Regions from separate parts of the Homo sapiens genome. Here region 2 is linked to region 1. A link means that fine-mapping ties the variant in region 1 to the expression of a gene that starts in the linked region. Tissue or cell type: whole blood. Region 1 holds a variant in brackets; the other region holds the start of a gene. All regions are shown on one strand. Distances are between the middles of the regions.

Region 1 (8,105 bases):
GGGAGGCCAAGGTGGCTGGACCATTTGAGGTCAGGAGTTTGAAACCAGCCTGGCCAGTATGGTGAAACCCCGTCTCTACTAAAAATACAAAAATTAGCTGGGCGTGGTAGTGGCCACCTGTAGTCCCAGCTACTTGGGAGGCTGAGACAAGAGAATTGCCTGAACCCGGGAGGCGGAGATTGCAGTGAGCTGAGATCACGCCATTGCACTCCAGCCTGGGCAAAAGAGTGAAACTCTGTCTCAAAAAAAAAATAATAAATAAAATAAAATAAAATAAAAGTTCCTCTATGTTTATAGGCCTTAAAAAACAAACCAACTTTCTGTGAAGGTGAATGATTTTGTTAATTGTTTCAAGATGTTGAGTGTTTTAAACTATGTTGTAAAAGCCCTACATGATGACAAAACAAAACTCATTAGTTAGTTTTTCCCTGTTGGGCTTTTACTTAAAAATATAAAATGTAGACATTCACAGGCAATTTTACAACTGCAAATTTAAACCAAGTATAATCAGAAAAGGGGAAAAATGACATAATATTGATATATCTGCTTTGTTGAGCTAGATCTGAGAGTAATATATCTCACTCGCTTCATTCTCTCCTTGATCCTTCAGTGTGCTATAAGTTTAATTCAAGAAAATTTCTGGAAGGATACAAAAGAAGCTGTTAACAGGTTTTTTTCTTCTGAAGCAGGGTTCTAGGAGGAAGACTTATTCTATAATTAGATAATATACCTCTTTATACTGTTTGAATTTTTACCCTAGGCTTGTATTACAGTTAAAAAAATATAATAATAACAATGTCAACAACAAAAGTCCTAAATTTGTGTTAAATTATCCCTCTGTGTTCCCCACGGTTCTGGGCATGTATTAGTCAGGACTCTTTTTTTCTTTTCTTTTCTTTTTTCTTTTTCTTTTTTTTTTTTTTTTTTTTTGAGACAGGGTCTTGCTTGTTGCCCAGGCTGGAGTGCAATGGCATGATCTTGGCTCACTGCAACCTCCACCTCCCAGGTTCAAGCAATTCTCATGCCTCAGCCTCCTGAGTAGCTGGGATTACAGGCATGTGCCACCATGCCCAGCTAATTTTTGTATTTTTAGTGGAGATAGGGTTTCACCATGTTGGCTAAGCTGGTCTCAAACTCCTGACTTCAGGTGATCCACCTGCCTCAGCCTCCCAAAGTGCTAGGATTACAGGCACGAGCCACCACGCCTGGCCTGTCAGGACTCTTTAAAGTGATGGAAACCCAATTTAAACTAGACTCTGCAGAAAAGGGGGTGGTTGTTACTAGAGCACAGAGCAGGAATGGAGTAGTTTACAGAACTAAAGGAAGAACCATGATCTCAGGGGCTAGCACTGAGGCCTCCCTATGACAAACTTGTTTTTTCTCCTGTTCTCATGATCATCATTACTTGTGTTTGCTCTTCAGTTCATGTTGGTGTCATTCTCTCTTGCTTCTCCATATGGACGTGGCTTTTGGTAGTCCTAGCTTAGGAACCCCAGAGAAGAGAAAAAACATCTTTCTTCCCAAGTCTCTATTTTAATCCTGATGAAGGTTCTCATTGATTTTGCTTGTGTTGCATGCTTCCCCTTGAACTATCGCTATTGCCAAGGGAATTGGCCAGACCTGCATCATTTACCCAGTGTGTGGCCAGCATAATGGAATCTCTTAACAGGAGGAACAAGTGAAAGCTTCCTGGGAGGAAAAGTAAGTAACCACAGTCTGCTACAGTCTACCCCTTGACTGCTTAGTCTAATACAAACTCTCCTCCCATAATAGTATTCCAAGACAGTTCCTGGAAATCACACAGCCCTCATACAGATACCTAAAATATATTCACCCCCTTTCCCACAGCAAAACAATTTGATGTATTTAACAGCAGGTTAAGCTCCAAGTCCAAAGTTCTGGGGGATCTTTCTTCTTCTTGGGCTGCTTTGAATATGACTTCTCTCGGTTCAGCGACCCATGTTTAATTGAGGAATGTAATACAATAAAAAACTTTAATTTAGAAAAGAGGAAAAAAAGGGCCGGGCGCAGTGGCTCACGCCTGTATTTTTTTTTTTTTTACCTTGTCCCCAAAGAGCCTGTTTTTGGCCGGGTGTGGTGACTCACACCTGTAATCCCAACACTTTGGGAGGCCGAGACAGGTGGATCACCTGAGATCAGGAGTTCAAGACCAGCCTGGCCAACATAGTGAAACCTTGTCACTTCTAAAAATACAAAAATTAGCCAGGCATAGTAGCGCATGCCTATACTAGGAGGGACGAGGCAGGAAGATCACTTGAACCTGGGAGGCAGAGGTTGCAGTGAGCCGAGATCGTGCCACTGCACTCCAGCCTGGGCAGAAGAGCAAGACTCCATCTCAAAAAAAAAATACAAAAAAAAACCAGACTGTCTTTTTTTGAACTATTTGGAACTAGAAGAAATCATTCATCTTACTTTAAAGCAGTGGCTACCTTCCTTAAAATAGAATCTGTATGTCCATGCTGTGGTTTGAATGTGTCCCCTCCATAATTCAGGTATTGAAACTTAATGGCCAATGTGATGGTATTAAGAGGTGAGACCTTTAAGAGGTAATTAAATCATGAGCGGTCCTCCTCTCATGAATGAGATTAAAACTGTTATATAAGAAGCTTCAAATAGCATTGGACTCACTTGTCCTTCTACCTTCTGTTATGTAAGGACACAGTGTTTCTCCCCCTGGAGGATGCAGCAACAAGGTGTCATCTTGAAAGCAGAGAGCAGCCCTCATAAAAAAACTGAACCTGCCAGTGCCATGATCTTGAACTTTCCAGCCTCTAGAACTGGGAGAAAGTAAATTTTTGTTCTTTATAAATTACCAGTCTCAGGCAGGGCACAGTGGCTCACACCTGTAATCCCAGCACTTTGGGAGGCTGAGATGGGTGGATCACAAGGTCAGGAGTTCGAGACCAGCTTACATGGTGAAACCCCGTGTCTACTAAAAATACAAAAAATTAGCCAGGCATCATGGCACGTGCCTGTAGTCCCAGCTACTTGGGAGGCTGAGGCAGGAGAATTGCTTGAACTTGGCAGGCAGAGGTTGCAGTGAGCTGAGATTGCACCACTGCACTCTAGCCTGGGTGACAGAGTGAGACTCCATCTCAAAAAATAATAAAAATAATAATAAATAAATAAAATAAATTACCAGTTTCATGGCCGGGCACAGTGGCTCATGCCTGTAATCCCAGCACTTTGGGAGGCCGAGACGGGGTGGATCATCTGAGGTCAGGAGTTCGAGACCAGCCTGGCCAAAATGGTGAAGCCCTGTCTCTACTAAAAATAAAAAAATTAGCTGGGTATGGTGGTACATGCCTGTAATCACAGTTACTTGGGAGGCTGAGACAGGAGAATCGCTTGAACCTGGGAGGTGGAGGTTGCAGTGAGCCAAGATTGTGCCACTGCACTTCAGCCTGGACAACAGAGCGAGACTCCGTCTCAAAAAAAAAAAAAATTATCAATTTCAGGTGTTTTGTTATAACAACACAAACTGTACTAAGACAATCTACACCTATTTCTTAATGTCTATCTCTGTCTCTATTTACCTACCTATCTATCTGTCCTCTGTCTAACCTCCCTTTCCTTCCAGGAAGTGAAGATTTAGGCAATAGTGTTTTGAA[G/A]ACTATTGTTTCAAAAATGCTTCCATGCTCTTGAGAAAGGGCTACTATTTGTTGCTCATTGCTTACTTTTTTTTACCCTGCTTTGGTTTTTCATTGGCCATCAAAGTTCTTACTGATGATCCTGAGTCAACTCATTAAGGACTCTGATGGGGAATTGGGAGGGAAGGAAGAAGGAATAAACCTTCAAGTGTGAAAGGATGAAAGGGATATAGTGAGAAAGTAAGAGGGACCATTGATCCACAGTCAGAAAAGTGGCTCAGGATTGGGGTCACCACCTGAAAAATCTGGACAAGTGAATTGAGAAGATGTCCATAATAAGCCTTGTCTTTGTGCCCCCGGAGTCATATTGGATTAGAAACTTTGCCAGCTGACTGCAGTTTTCACAAGATTGAACGCCTTATATTACTTATCCCCTGGCTTCTGAAGATCAGGTATTCACCCTTCAGGAAACCTTGCTCATTTTACATCAGGTCTCCTTAATAGTTTTCCTTCCTGTAGAAGCAATGCTCACCTTGAAGCATATATCTATTTCTGCCACTGGCCAATTACCTCTTACGGTATTTCTACCAAAATACCTTTCCTCTTTGTTAGACTAAAGATGACTCCTAGACCCTCAGAGAAATGATGGGAAAGAGTTTTCACACCTGTACTTAGATGGCTTAACTAAGACTACCAGATCCCCCAAGCTGGGATAGCAATAAATGGATTCTACCAGTCCCCCAGAGTGTTCTTTTCCCCCTAATCTATTTCAAGCCAGGCAATCTGGAAATGAGTTTTATCTTTCCTCTATCTCAAGATACTCTTCTTAAAGTTACATGGAGATGGAGACTGAAGATTAAAGTTTAATCAGCTGATTCTCAAACTCTATATCTCAGATCTCACACCTCCAACTTTTTTATCTGGGGTGGAAGGTGGTGATGGGAAGGGAAGAGAGTATCACAGTTCTACAACAATCATTCCTAGTTTCCTCTTAGTGCTCGTTTGCAATGCCTCTTCCTGGGACCAAATTATTCTCAGGAACTGTTTGGTTGCAAGGAAGAGAAACTCACTAAAATTAACCCAAGTAAAATGGTACATTTATTATATGGCTATAACAACTAATGTCCAGGACAGTGAGGCCATGTTATAGACATTTATGAAGAAGAAATAAGGTATACATAGTTGGGCCTCAGAAGGTCTATAAAAGGTAGATAGAAAGTAAGGAAATAAGGCTGTTCTTTTCCTAAGACCCTTTCATCTTTCATCTCTGCTTCTTTTAATTCTGGCTTTCTCCCTGCAGAGAATAAATTTCTCCTTATTCATGGTGTCTTTGACCCTGTAGTTTCAGCTTGGTTCACTGTCTCACAGTGGGGGAAAGTGTGTTATCCAATAGGAAACTGGAGTGCTATTAGGATAGGAGAACAAACTCTAGGACGCCAAAATATGAAAAGTTACTATAATAATGAACAATCTATCCAAGCTAATTCAAGTTGGATAAATAGTTTGCCATATCTGAAGTGGAAGTCACGAAGACACCAATCCATAGTGACTCACTCTGTCCCTGGAACTTGAAGGCACCCAGTAATTGTTTGCTTAGTGGATGAATAAATTAGTGAATGACTGGAGTTGAATGCAATTCATGTCTGATTTATTTTGATTCATCTTGGTAACACTCATAGCACCTGATATACTCGTGTGTGTGTGTGTGTGTGTGTGTGTGTGTATGTTGGTATATGGTAAGTACTCAATAAGCAACTGGATACTTGCTGAGCACCAACCTAATATAATACCTTACTGTATTAGCAGAATAACTCTCACCTCCTTTAAGTATTGTGCTTTTTGAAATGGCAAAATTGGCCAGGCACGGTGTCTCACACCTGTAATCCCAACACTTTGGGAGGCCAAGGCAGGTGGATCACCTGAGGTCAGTAGTTCGAGACCAGTCTGGCTAACATGGCAAAACCCTGTTTCTACTAAAAGTACAAAAGTTAGCCGGGCATGGTGGCATTCGCCTGTAGTCCCAGCTAGTTGGGAGGCTGAGGCAGGAGAATTGCTTGAACCTGGGAGGCAGTGGTTGCAGTGAGCCAAGATCGCACCATTGCACTCCAGCCTGGGTGACACAGTGAGACTCTGTCTCAATAAAATAAAATAAAATAAAATGGCAAAATCATTGTATAGTATCGTGGTCTCCAGTGTAGAATGTGTATGGCAACGCACCATATAAAAAATTATTATGACCTCTAAAAGAAAAATTGTGTTGCCAATATCTAATATACAGGTTGATATTTGTGTCTTCACATAGGTCAAATGTCAAGAATAGTTCATGAGTTCTCTAAGGGAAGAGTGGGGCTTCCACAACATGGAGGACTTGACTGAGTTGTCTTCTTCTGGGTGTTGGCTCTCAGCATCCTGTGATATATTGCAGTTTACTTGGGCCAGTGTGGATTCTAAGAAAAATGCATTATCTAGTTTGAACTAAAGTAACTTTCACAAAATGAACAAAAAGCTTAAAAAGATACCTGTAATGACATTGTAAATTTAAGACAATACCTATAATGGAAGCATAAGGAAACAATGAGAAAATGGCAAAACAAACATTTCTGCTCTGTTATGAGCTCTTTGTCTGCCACATTAAGAGATAAAACAATGATATCTAGTGAGATCTGACAAGAGGTGTCGAAAAAATTAGACATTATCATGGAGCCCTGTTTGAATTGTGGATTTAAGTCTAACATCACTGACAATGAACATTGCCCCAAAGTGTATCTTGTGCTTGAGTTTTATCCATAAAATTGTCATGGTTATCATAACATTTAGAAATGAAGCATCTAGAGTATGCAGTCCAATCTTACAGCTTTTTTACAGGGATGTTTTAATCAGGCACTGCTCAATTTCACTTAATTTCACTAACTTTATAGATTTTAGCTTAACAGCAGAGGTTAAAAAGCTACATACTATTAGAGAAATATGTGTTCTTCTGCCCTGGTAAAACTTGGCAGAAATAATAAGAAAAATGTGTTCCTTTGTCAGCAAATATCATTGGAAAATGCATAGAAAAGATTGCTGAAGATCTGAGGAAACAAGCATTAGGGTAGATTTGACATCGTGGAAGGTTTCTGATATAATTGGATGAAAGTACAGATATTTCTAACTTGACTCAATTTATGATACTTGCTGGATTCTGGTTCAATATTGAAATACATAGAAAACAATTCTCTCTATCGCCATTAAGAAAAATGTATCTTGGAGGGGCTATATTAAGATATAATTATACCTTCAATTATAATTATAATTACTTCTTAAATACAAGAGGGATAAGGCTAGAGGAATAGAGCATAAGTGAAATTTAATGACCGCATCATTCATATGCAGTTACTGTAGCAAAGAAGTTAGAGCCATAATAACTAAAATTCCAGGAATTTTAGGTGTGATAAATTTTGTGAAAACAGAAACTTTAATCTTAAAAACTTCATAATGATGTATAGCAGAAGTTGGCAACCTTTTTTGGTAAAGAAGATAGTCAGTATTTTAGGTTTTCCAGGCCATATGGTCCCTATTATAGTGATTCAGTTCTGCCACTGTAGGGTGAAAGCAGCCATAGACAGTATGTAAATTAATGAGTGTGATTGTATTTCAATAAAACTTTATAAAAACAAGAGTGGAATGGATTTGATGTAAGGGCCATAGCTGGACCCCTGCTTTATAATGAGATGGGGTAGCCATAAACACAGAGGTTCATCGTTTATCTTCTGTCAAAACACTTTAAAAGGTTGTTGAAGTTAAAGACAAATCTGCCATTTATTGATTTTCTTTTTTTGAGACAGAGTCTTGCTCCATTGCCCAGACTGGAGTGCAGTGGTACAATCACAGCTCAGTGCAGCCTAGACCTCCTGGGCTCAAGCAATCCTCCTACCTAAGCCTCCAGAGAAACTGGGACTACAGGTATACACCACCACACCTGACTAATTAAAAAAAAATTTTTTGTTGGCGAGGTGCGGTGTCTCACGCCTGTAATCCCAGCACTTTGGGGGACCAAGGCGAGTGGATCACGAGGTCAGGAGTTCAAGACCAGTCTGGCCAAGATGGTGAAACTCTGTCTCTACTAAAACTACAAAAATTAGCCAGACACAGTAGCAGGTGCCTGTAATCCCATCTACTCGGGAGGCTGAGGCAGGAGAATTGTTTGAACCCGGGTGGCAGAGGTTGCAGTGAACTGTGATTGTGCCACTGCACTCCAGCCCGGACAACAGAGTGAGACTCCGTCTCAAAAAAACAAAAACAAAAACAAACAAACAAAAAAAATTATCTAGAGATGGGGATGAGGTAAGGGGTGTGGGTGTCTTGCTATGTTGCCCAGGCTAGTGTGAAACTCCTGGGCTCACTTGATTTGCCCGCCTCAGCCTCCTAAAGTGTTGGGATTATAGGTGTGAACCATTGCACCCAGCCAATTTATTGGTATTTTATGTGTCAAGTGGGTGTCAATAGTATGCTACC
Region 2 (8,105 bases), 180 kb after region 1:
CTCCAGAAAAACAGCAACAAAGGAGGGCCTTCCTATGTATTTGGAAGGAGTCACCTAGAGGAGGGACTTGGGGTTTTGGTGTTGGTGTGGGGGGCAGGGATGGGATGGGGAGGGGGAAGCTTATTGAAATATACTAAAAGACAAACCAACCTAAGGGCTGGAGGGAAGAAAATTCACACTTGTAAGCTTCTTTTTTAAGGGGCATCTCTTAGGCTCTAGCTTTTGAGATTCAGTATATATATATTTTTGAGTCTTGCTCTGCTGGAGTGCAGTGGTGTGATCTGGGCTCACTGCAAGTTCTGCCTCTCAGGTTCACACCATTCTTCTGCCTCAGCCTCCCGAGCAGCTGGGACTACAGGCGCCTGCCACCATGCCCAGCTAATTTTTTGTATTTTTAGTAGAGACGGGGTTTCACCCTGTTAGCCAGGATGGTCTCGATCTCCTGATCTCATGATCCGCCCGCCTCGGCCTCCCAAAATGCTGGGATTACAGGCGTGAGCCACCGCGCCCGGCCCAGTATTTTTGTTTTATGAAGATATTACATTTGTAAAGTATGAGCTTGGTGTCAGCAAACTTATATCCCTGTGTACAAACTGGCCGAATCACTTAGCCACTTTGGGCCAAATCACTTAGCTCTTCTAACAGTAAGAAATCAACAAGAAAAATAAACATTTCAAACATTACAATGTGTTCATGTATTCACTGTGGGGGATGACCAGATTCTCGAAACCACAGGTTGTTCTTAGTGAAACAAGTTTGGGTTGGGGCCATAGACTTGTGTATTTAGAATCAATGGCTGTTCTCTCTCTGGGACTTTGATTTTTTTCTTGGGCTCATCCCCTTTTTGTAGTATCTTATCTTTGTCTTATTTGTATAGGACTTAACTGTTCCCATTCCCTTATTAGAGCAATCTAAGTGATTACCTTCATACCTTTTGGAATTATATGCTTCAAAATTCCAAAAAGAATGATTTTGGGCTGGGCACAGTGGCTCACACCTATAATTCCAGCACTTTGAGAGGCTGAGGTGGATCGCCTGAGGTCAGGAGTTTGAGACCAACCTGGCCAACATAGTGAAACCCCGTCTCTACTAAAAAATATAAAAAATTAGCCGGGCATGGTGGCAGGTGCCTGTAATCTCAGCTACTCGGGAGGTGGAGGTTGCAATGAGCCCAGATCGCACCATTGCACTCCAGCCTGGGCAACAAAAGGTGAAACTCCATCTCAATTAAAAAAAAAATAATGATTTTGGTGGTCGACTTCAAATAGGTAGGAGAAGAAGGAGAGAGGAGATGGAGGGTCAGGGAGATCTAATTACTCTCTAAAATCATGCTAGGAAAGATAACACCTTTTAATAACACTCTCTGCTTTTATAACATCATTCTGCCAAGGAGCTCAAAGGTTTCAACAAAGTTCACTTTCAGAAAACCCCTTTGAGGAAGACAGAATATACATCTTCTCTCCATTTTAAAGATGAAGAAACAGGCCGGGCACAATGGCTAATGCCTGTAATCCCAGCACTTTGGGAGGCTGAGGCCAGAGGATCGCTTGAGCTCCAGAGTTTGAGACCAGCCTGGATAACATGGCAAAACCCTGTCTCTACAAAAAAAATACGAAAATTAGATGGGTGTGGTGGCATGCACCTGTGGTCCCAGCTACTTGGGAGGCTAAGGTGGGAGGATCGCTTGAGCCCAGGGAGTCAAGTCTACACTGAGCCATGATTGGATCACTGCACTCCAGCCTGGGTAGACAGAGCAAGACCCTGTCTCAAAAAAAAGAAATGAAAGAGAAAGAAAGAAAGAGGAGAGGAGAGGAGATGAGGGGAGGGGAGGGGAGGAGGGAGGGGGGGAGGAAGGAAGGAAGGAAGGAAGGAAAAAAAGATGAAAAAAGAAAAAAACAAGATGAAACAGAGGCAGAAAGACTTTACGTAAATTGCTCATCATGTGGTTGTCAAGTTTGACCCCAAAACCCAATTTATTGACCAAGGTTATTCTTTGACTGAGGCAAGGGGGTCCGCTCTCCTGGGCCTTGGGCTTTAGAAAGCTCATCTCTGGCCTTTCTGAGATCCATCCCTTTCTTTTTATTTTTCTTGACACGGAGTCTTGCTCTGTCACTCAGGCTGGAGTGCAGTGGCATGATCTCGACTCACTGTAACCTCTGCCTCCCGGGTTCAAGCGATTCTCCTGCCTCAGCCTCCTGAGATAACAGGCGCTCGCCACCACATCTGGCTAATTTTTGTATTTTTAGTAAAGACTGGGTTTCATCATGTTGGCCAGGTTGGTTTCGAACTCCTGACCTGAGGTGAGCTGCCCACCTTGGCCTCCCAAAGTGCTGGGATTACAGGCATGAGCCACTGCGCCCAGCTCAGATCCATCCCTTTCTAAGGGCAAACAGTCCATGGTGCAAAGGGGCCATGCCACCCAGAGTTATGAGTACCTGGGACTCCAGAATTCCTTGCCTGGTGGCCTCCACATGCACTTCCAGGGCCTGCTTGGGCCTCTTCTATGGGTCTGTCCTGAGTGTTGATAGAACCACTGATGTGAGTACCTGGGCTTGAGCCGTGGCCTGGAGATCCTGTTGACTGTAGCATGGAGGGGGCTTGTGCAGCTGAATGTCTGTATGCAGGTGGTGGGAGTTCTGGAATATGATGGAGCTGGAGGTGGGAAGAGAAGTAGGCTTGGGGCAGCTCTCTCATGCCACCTCATTCTGGCCAAAACTCAGGTCAAACTGTGAAGAGTCTAAATGTGAATCTGCCCTTCAAGGTGGCTACAAAGGTATCTTTGTCAAGGTAGGAGACCTTGTGGCCTCCACGTGCACTTCCAGGGCCTGCTTGGGCCTCTTCTACGGGTCTGTCCTGAGTCTTCTATGAATCTGCCCTTCAGGGCAGATTCATATTTAGACTCTTCACAGTTTGACCTGAGTTTTGGCCAGAATAAGGTGACATTTAGTTTGTTGGCTTGATGGATGACTTAAATATTTAGACATATGGTGTGTAGGCCTGCATTCCTACTCTTGCCTTTTTTTTTGCCCCTCCAGTGTTTTGGGTAGTTTTGCTCCCCTACAGCCAAAGGCAAACAGATAAGTTGGAGGTCTGGAGTGGCTACATAATTTTACACGACTGCAATTCTCTGGCTGCACTTCACAAATGTATACAAACTAAATACAAGTCCTGTGTTTTTATCACAGGGAGGCTGATCAATATAATGAAATTAAAAGGGGGCTGGTCCATATTGTTCTGTGTTTTTGTTTGTTTGTTTCTTTTTTTGTTTTTGTGGCCTCCTTCCTCTCAATTTATGAAGAGAAGCAGTAAGATGTTCCTCTCGGGTCCTCTGAGGGACCTGGGGAGCTCAGGCTGGGAATCTCCAAGGCAGTAGGTCGCCTATCAAAAATCAAAGTCCAGGTTTGTGGGGGGAAAACAAAAGCAGCCCATTACCCAGAGGACTGTCCGCCTTCCCCTCACCCCAGCCTAGGCCTTTGAAAGGAAACAAAAGACAAGACAAAATGATTGGCGTCCTGAGGGAGATTCAGCCTAGAGCTCTCTCTCCCCCAATCCCTCCCTCCGGCTGAGGAAACTAACAAAGGAAAAAAAAATTGCGGAAAGCAGGATTTAGAGGAAGCAAATTCCACTGGTGCCCTTGGCTGCCGGGAACGTGGACTAGAGAGTCTGCGGCGCAGCCCCGAGCCCAGCGCTTCCCGCGCGTCTTAGGCCGGCGGGCCCGGGCGGGGGAAGGGGACGCAGACCGCGGACCCTAAGACACCTGCTGTACCCTCCACCCCCACCCCACCCACCTCCCCCCAACTCCCTAGATGTGTCGTGGGCGGCTGAACGTCGCCCGTTTAAGGGGCGGGCCCCGGCTCCACGTGCTTTCTGCTGAGTGACTGAACTACATAAACAGAGGCCGGGAACGGGGCGGGGAGGAGGGAGAGCACAGGCTTTGACCGATAGTAACCTCTGCGCTCGGTGCAGCCGAATCTATAAAAGGAACTAGTCCCGGCAAAAACCCCGTAATTGCGAGCGAGAGTGAGTGGGGCCGGGACCCGCAGAGCCGAGCCGACCCTTCTCTCCCGGGCTGCGGCAGGGCAGGGCGGGGAGCTCCGCGCACCAACAGAGCCGGTTCTCAGGGCGCTTTGCTCCTTGTTTTTTCCCCGGTTCTGTTTTCTCCCCTTCTCCGGAAGGCTTGTCAAGGGGTAGGAGAAAGAGACGCAAACACAAAAGTGGAAAACAGGTAAGAGGCTCTCCAGTGACTTACTTGGGCGTTATTGTTTTGTTTCGAGGCCAAGGAGGCTTCGGGAAGTGCTCGGTTTCGGGGACTTTGATCCGGAGCCCCACATCCCCACCACTTGCAACTCAGATGGGACCGGAGGCGGTGTTAAATGGGGAGACGATGTCCTAGTACGAGCTCTGGTGACCCCAGGACTCTGCGCTGCTGCGCTTGGGGCTTGCCCGACGGTGGAGACCGGGGAGCATCTCTGGGCGTGGAGACCCGGGCGCAGTACCCCGGGCTCAGAGGGGTCGGGGGTTCCCGGGCGTGCTGAGGGCGCTGCTGCCGGGTGGGGAGAGCTGCAGGTCCGGCACCGAGCGCTGCTTTGTTCGGAGGGCCCTGAGCTGGCTAGAAACCCTTCTGGTTGCAGGTCGGCCAGTACCTACGGAGACAAATGCCAGCACTGAGTCTTCACTCGGTTCTTAAGAAGCTGGTCTGTTCTGACCTGGGAATTGGCTATATGCTCCCCGGGACTGGAGCGGCACAGTCCCGGACTGTGAATCCGGGAACTCGAGTTGGAGGTGTCCCAAACGGTCCGTGGTGCTATTGCTCACTAGAGGCCTTGGGTCTTTGTTTGACCTGAGGGGTAGGGAGGTCCTGCCTACAGTCTCCGTGCGCTCAGCTGAGCTGGTGTCCCTGGCGCAGAGCGCGGACGAGTTTTGTTTCCTTTTCTTTTTCTTTTTTTTCTTTCCTTTAAGTCTCGGTCTGTCGCCCAGGCTGGAGTGCAATGGAACGATCTCCGCTCACTGCAACCTCCGCCTCCCGGGTTCAAGCGATTCTCCTGCCTCAGCCTCCTGAGTAGCTGGGATTACAGGCGCGTCACCACATCCAGCTAATTTTTGTATTTTTAGTAGAGACGGGGTTTCAACTTGTTGGCCAGGCTGGTCTCGAACCCTCGACCTCAGGTGATCCACCGGCCTCGGCCTCCCCAAGTGCTGGGATTATAGGCGTGAGCCACCGCGCGCGGCCGAGTTTTGTTTCTTTTAAAAACAAGACTTAGGAGAGCCTGCGGAGACCCGGAGGTGGGGTGCCCAATCCTCCCTCTCCCACGTTCCCTGCAGCCCCATCTTCCAGACCGTTGCTGCTGGTCTCTCGGGGCAGCTTCTGCCTGGGCGCAGATGGGGAAGCTGGGCCGAGGTGGTGCCGTGGAATGACCGGGAGTAACCCCGGCGGGCGGCGCAGAACTCGGAGCTCCGCCGCGGGGCTGGGCTGGGCTCTGCCGTGAGGGTGGGGGTGCTGGGCGCGCGGGCTGCGGTGGCCCCCGGAGACTGGCCCGCAGCGCCTCCTGGCCGGAGGACCTAGGAATCGGCCGGCTCTACTAGGTGTCTTTGCTCGCGGTTCCGACTGTGAATCCGGTGAAGACCGGTGGTTGCAGACGGGGAGGAACTATGAGGTTGAGGCGAAAGCCCGTTTTGTTTTTTTTTTTTTGTTTTTTTGGTTTTTTTTTTTGTTAGCGTGTTTGCCAACTCCCAGGCCATTGGTAAAGCAGGAAGGTTCTTGGGGCGGCGGACGGTGCCAGGGTTATGTGTAGGTGCCTCTTTAGGTATATCTTTTATCAAAAAGAAGCAAAGAAATAAGATTAAAAATAAACAAAGAAAAAAGTTGTCTGGCACTGGCAGTAATTGGCCTGCCTTTGCAGCACTGATACCATTAGCTTTTAAAATCCGACTTTTCATTGACACTTCAAGAAGAGAATGGGTAGTATATACACATTCATCTCATAGTGGACAAATTTCATATTTAAAAAAACCTTCTGGGTACTGAAATCAGCAAGTCACTTGCCCTCCATGGCCGAATCCCTGCTTCCCACGAAGAGAACCTCACAAAAATTTCCCCCAAGTTAAAGAGTGGAATTTTCTTGATTTTTTTTTCTTTTTTTTTTAACGGCCGTAGTTTAGAACCCAGACTTAAATTATGATCTTCTTTTCAAACAAAACTTAAAGTCCTTAAGTTTTCATCTCCCCTTTTATTTCAACCTATTCTTCTCATACCTACCACAAAAATAATGGAGGCTTTCTGTTGAGAAACTTTCCGTTTCTGTTGAGAGTATCATTCTCTTGAGAAACTTTCTCCTAAATCAGAGAAAGTATGGAAGCATGGAAAGTATTCCTGAGTAGAACCTCTACAGATATTACAATATTTTTCAAATACAAAGTTTCCATTGTCAGCCTGTTTCCCAAGTGCTTCCACAAACCATTAAATAATTCCACAAACCATTAAAATAATTAATGCTAGGGAATTTTAGGAAAACATTGGTTTACAATCAGAAGGACCGGGGAAGTGGGTCTTCAGCCTTCACGATGACTACAAGCCATTTAAGGGACTAGAATTGCTACTGTTGTCAGAGCAATTTAGGAGTCTGTATTTGAGCACCCGCATAGTGTTCCAGAATGACATATCTGACTGTAACCTGGACACGTGTGATATGTTGTCTCCCCTGCAGATGAGCATTTGAAATCTCAACCCTCGTATTTCTACGAGTGCAGGCCTATAATGGACCCTGGGCACATTTTTTTTTTTTTTGAGATGCAGTCTCGCTCTGTTTCCCAGGCTGGAGTGCAGTGGCACGATATGGCTCACTGCAACCTCCACCTCCTGGGTTCAAGAGATTCTCCTGCCTCAGCCTCCTGAGTAGCTGGGACTATAGGCGCACGCCACCATGCCTGGCTAGTTTTTGCATTTTCAGTAGAGACAGAGTTTCACCATGTTGGCCAGGATGGTCTCGATTTCCTGACCTCTTGATCCACCCGCCTCGGCCTCCCAAAGTGCTGGGATTACAGGCGTGAGGCACCGCGCCCGACCCCTGGACACATTTTGACTTAGAACATATTTTCGGTTTGTGTGAGACAGTGCATTAGTGCAGGATTGGAAAAGAGTGATCAGGAATTGATTGTTTTCAAGGATTGGTTCCTTCTGCTCAAGGAAGTCCCATTGTAAACATAAAAAAATGAATGAAACTGAAGAAGTTCAGTGACTTAGCTTTTTATTATCTTCTGTAGTACTTACCTTTTTGGAGAGGAGTTGGTTGGGATATTTTTCCATTTAAATTTTTTTTTTAAAGGGATCTTCTCTCCCGTAAGCCGGGATACTTAAGCTATATATGTAGTGGCTACAAATTAAGGTCTTCACTGTTTTCATTTTTAGCTGCTAGAATAAGTGAACATTACCTTAGATAGACTCTTCTAATTATGAAGATATCTAGATGTCTAGAAAATATCAAAATGCATGTGGTTTTTGCATTTCTAAAATACTTTTAAAACCAAATACTTTTTCTTTTTTTTTTTTTTCTGAGATGGAGTCTTGCTCTTTTGCCTAGGCTGGAGCGCAGTAGAATGATCTTGGCTCACTGCAACTTCCGCCTCTCAGGTTCAGGTGATTCTCCTGCCTCAACCTCCTGAGTAGCTGGGATTACAGGTGCGTGCCACCACACCCGGCTAGTTTTTGTGTTTTTAGTAGGGACAGGGTTTCACCATGTTGGCCAGGCTGGTCTCAAGCTCCTGACCTCAAGTGATCTGCCAGCCTCAGCCTCCCAAAGTGCTGGGATTACAGGCATGAGCCACCACACCTGGCCTCAAATACATTTTTTTAAGTATCCAGATATTAAATAAATAATACCATTATAGTAGTTGTTATGGTCATTTACTCTAGCATCAAATGTTAAAAGATCATTCTGAACACTTGTTTTGTTTATGCTGAGAGAAGGCCTACTCCAAAAAATGCAACCATCTTCGTATCTGCATGTGGATACAACCATGAATGGCCAAAGTTATTGCAGTGTTGAATAGACACTTATATAGCACTGTGTGGCAAGTACTGTTTGAAATGTTTTTCACGTGTTTATTCA

The links. PIP is the estimated chance that this variant, and not a neighbour inherited with it, causes the effect.
Region 2: it holds the start of ABCA1, and the variant in region 1 is fine-mapped to the expression of ABCA1 in whole blood (TOPMed, PIP 0.92).

The regions. Positions count from the first base shown.
Region 1 is chr9:105,101,097-105,109,201 of GRCh38, reverse strand. The region is part of intron 1 of LOC105376197 (a long non-coding RNA gene); the gene reads right to left. Among named protein-coding and RNA genes, the nearest start is that of CT70, 110 kb to the right of the region's middle. The variant G/A (reference allele first, on the strand shown) is at 3,633.
Region 2 is chr9:104,924,055-104,932,159 of GRCh38, reverse strand. It overlaps ABCA1 (ATP binding cassette subfamily A member 1), which reads left to right and starts at 4,005. Exons shown (of 50, transcript NM_005502.4): 1 at 4,005-4,225. LOC105376196 (a long non-coding RNA gene) reads right to left here and starts at 5,371. Exons shown (of 3, transcript NR_188620.1): 1 at 4,250-5,371; 2 at 2,436-2,652. RefSeq lists silencers at 3,846-4,035, 5,372-5,611, 8,083-8,105 and enhancers at 4,236-4,315, 4,636-4,695.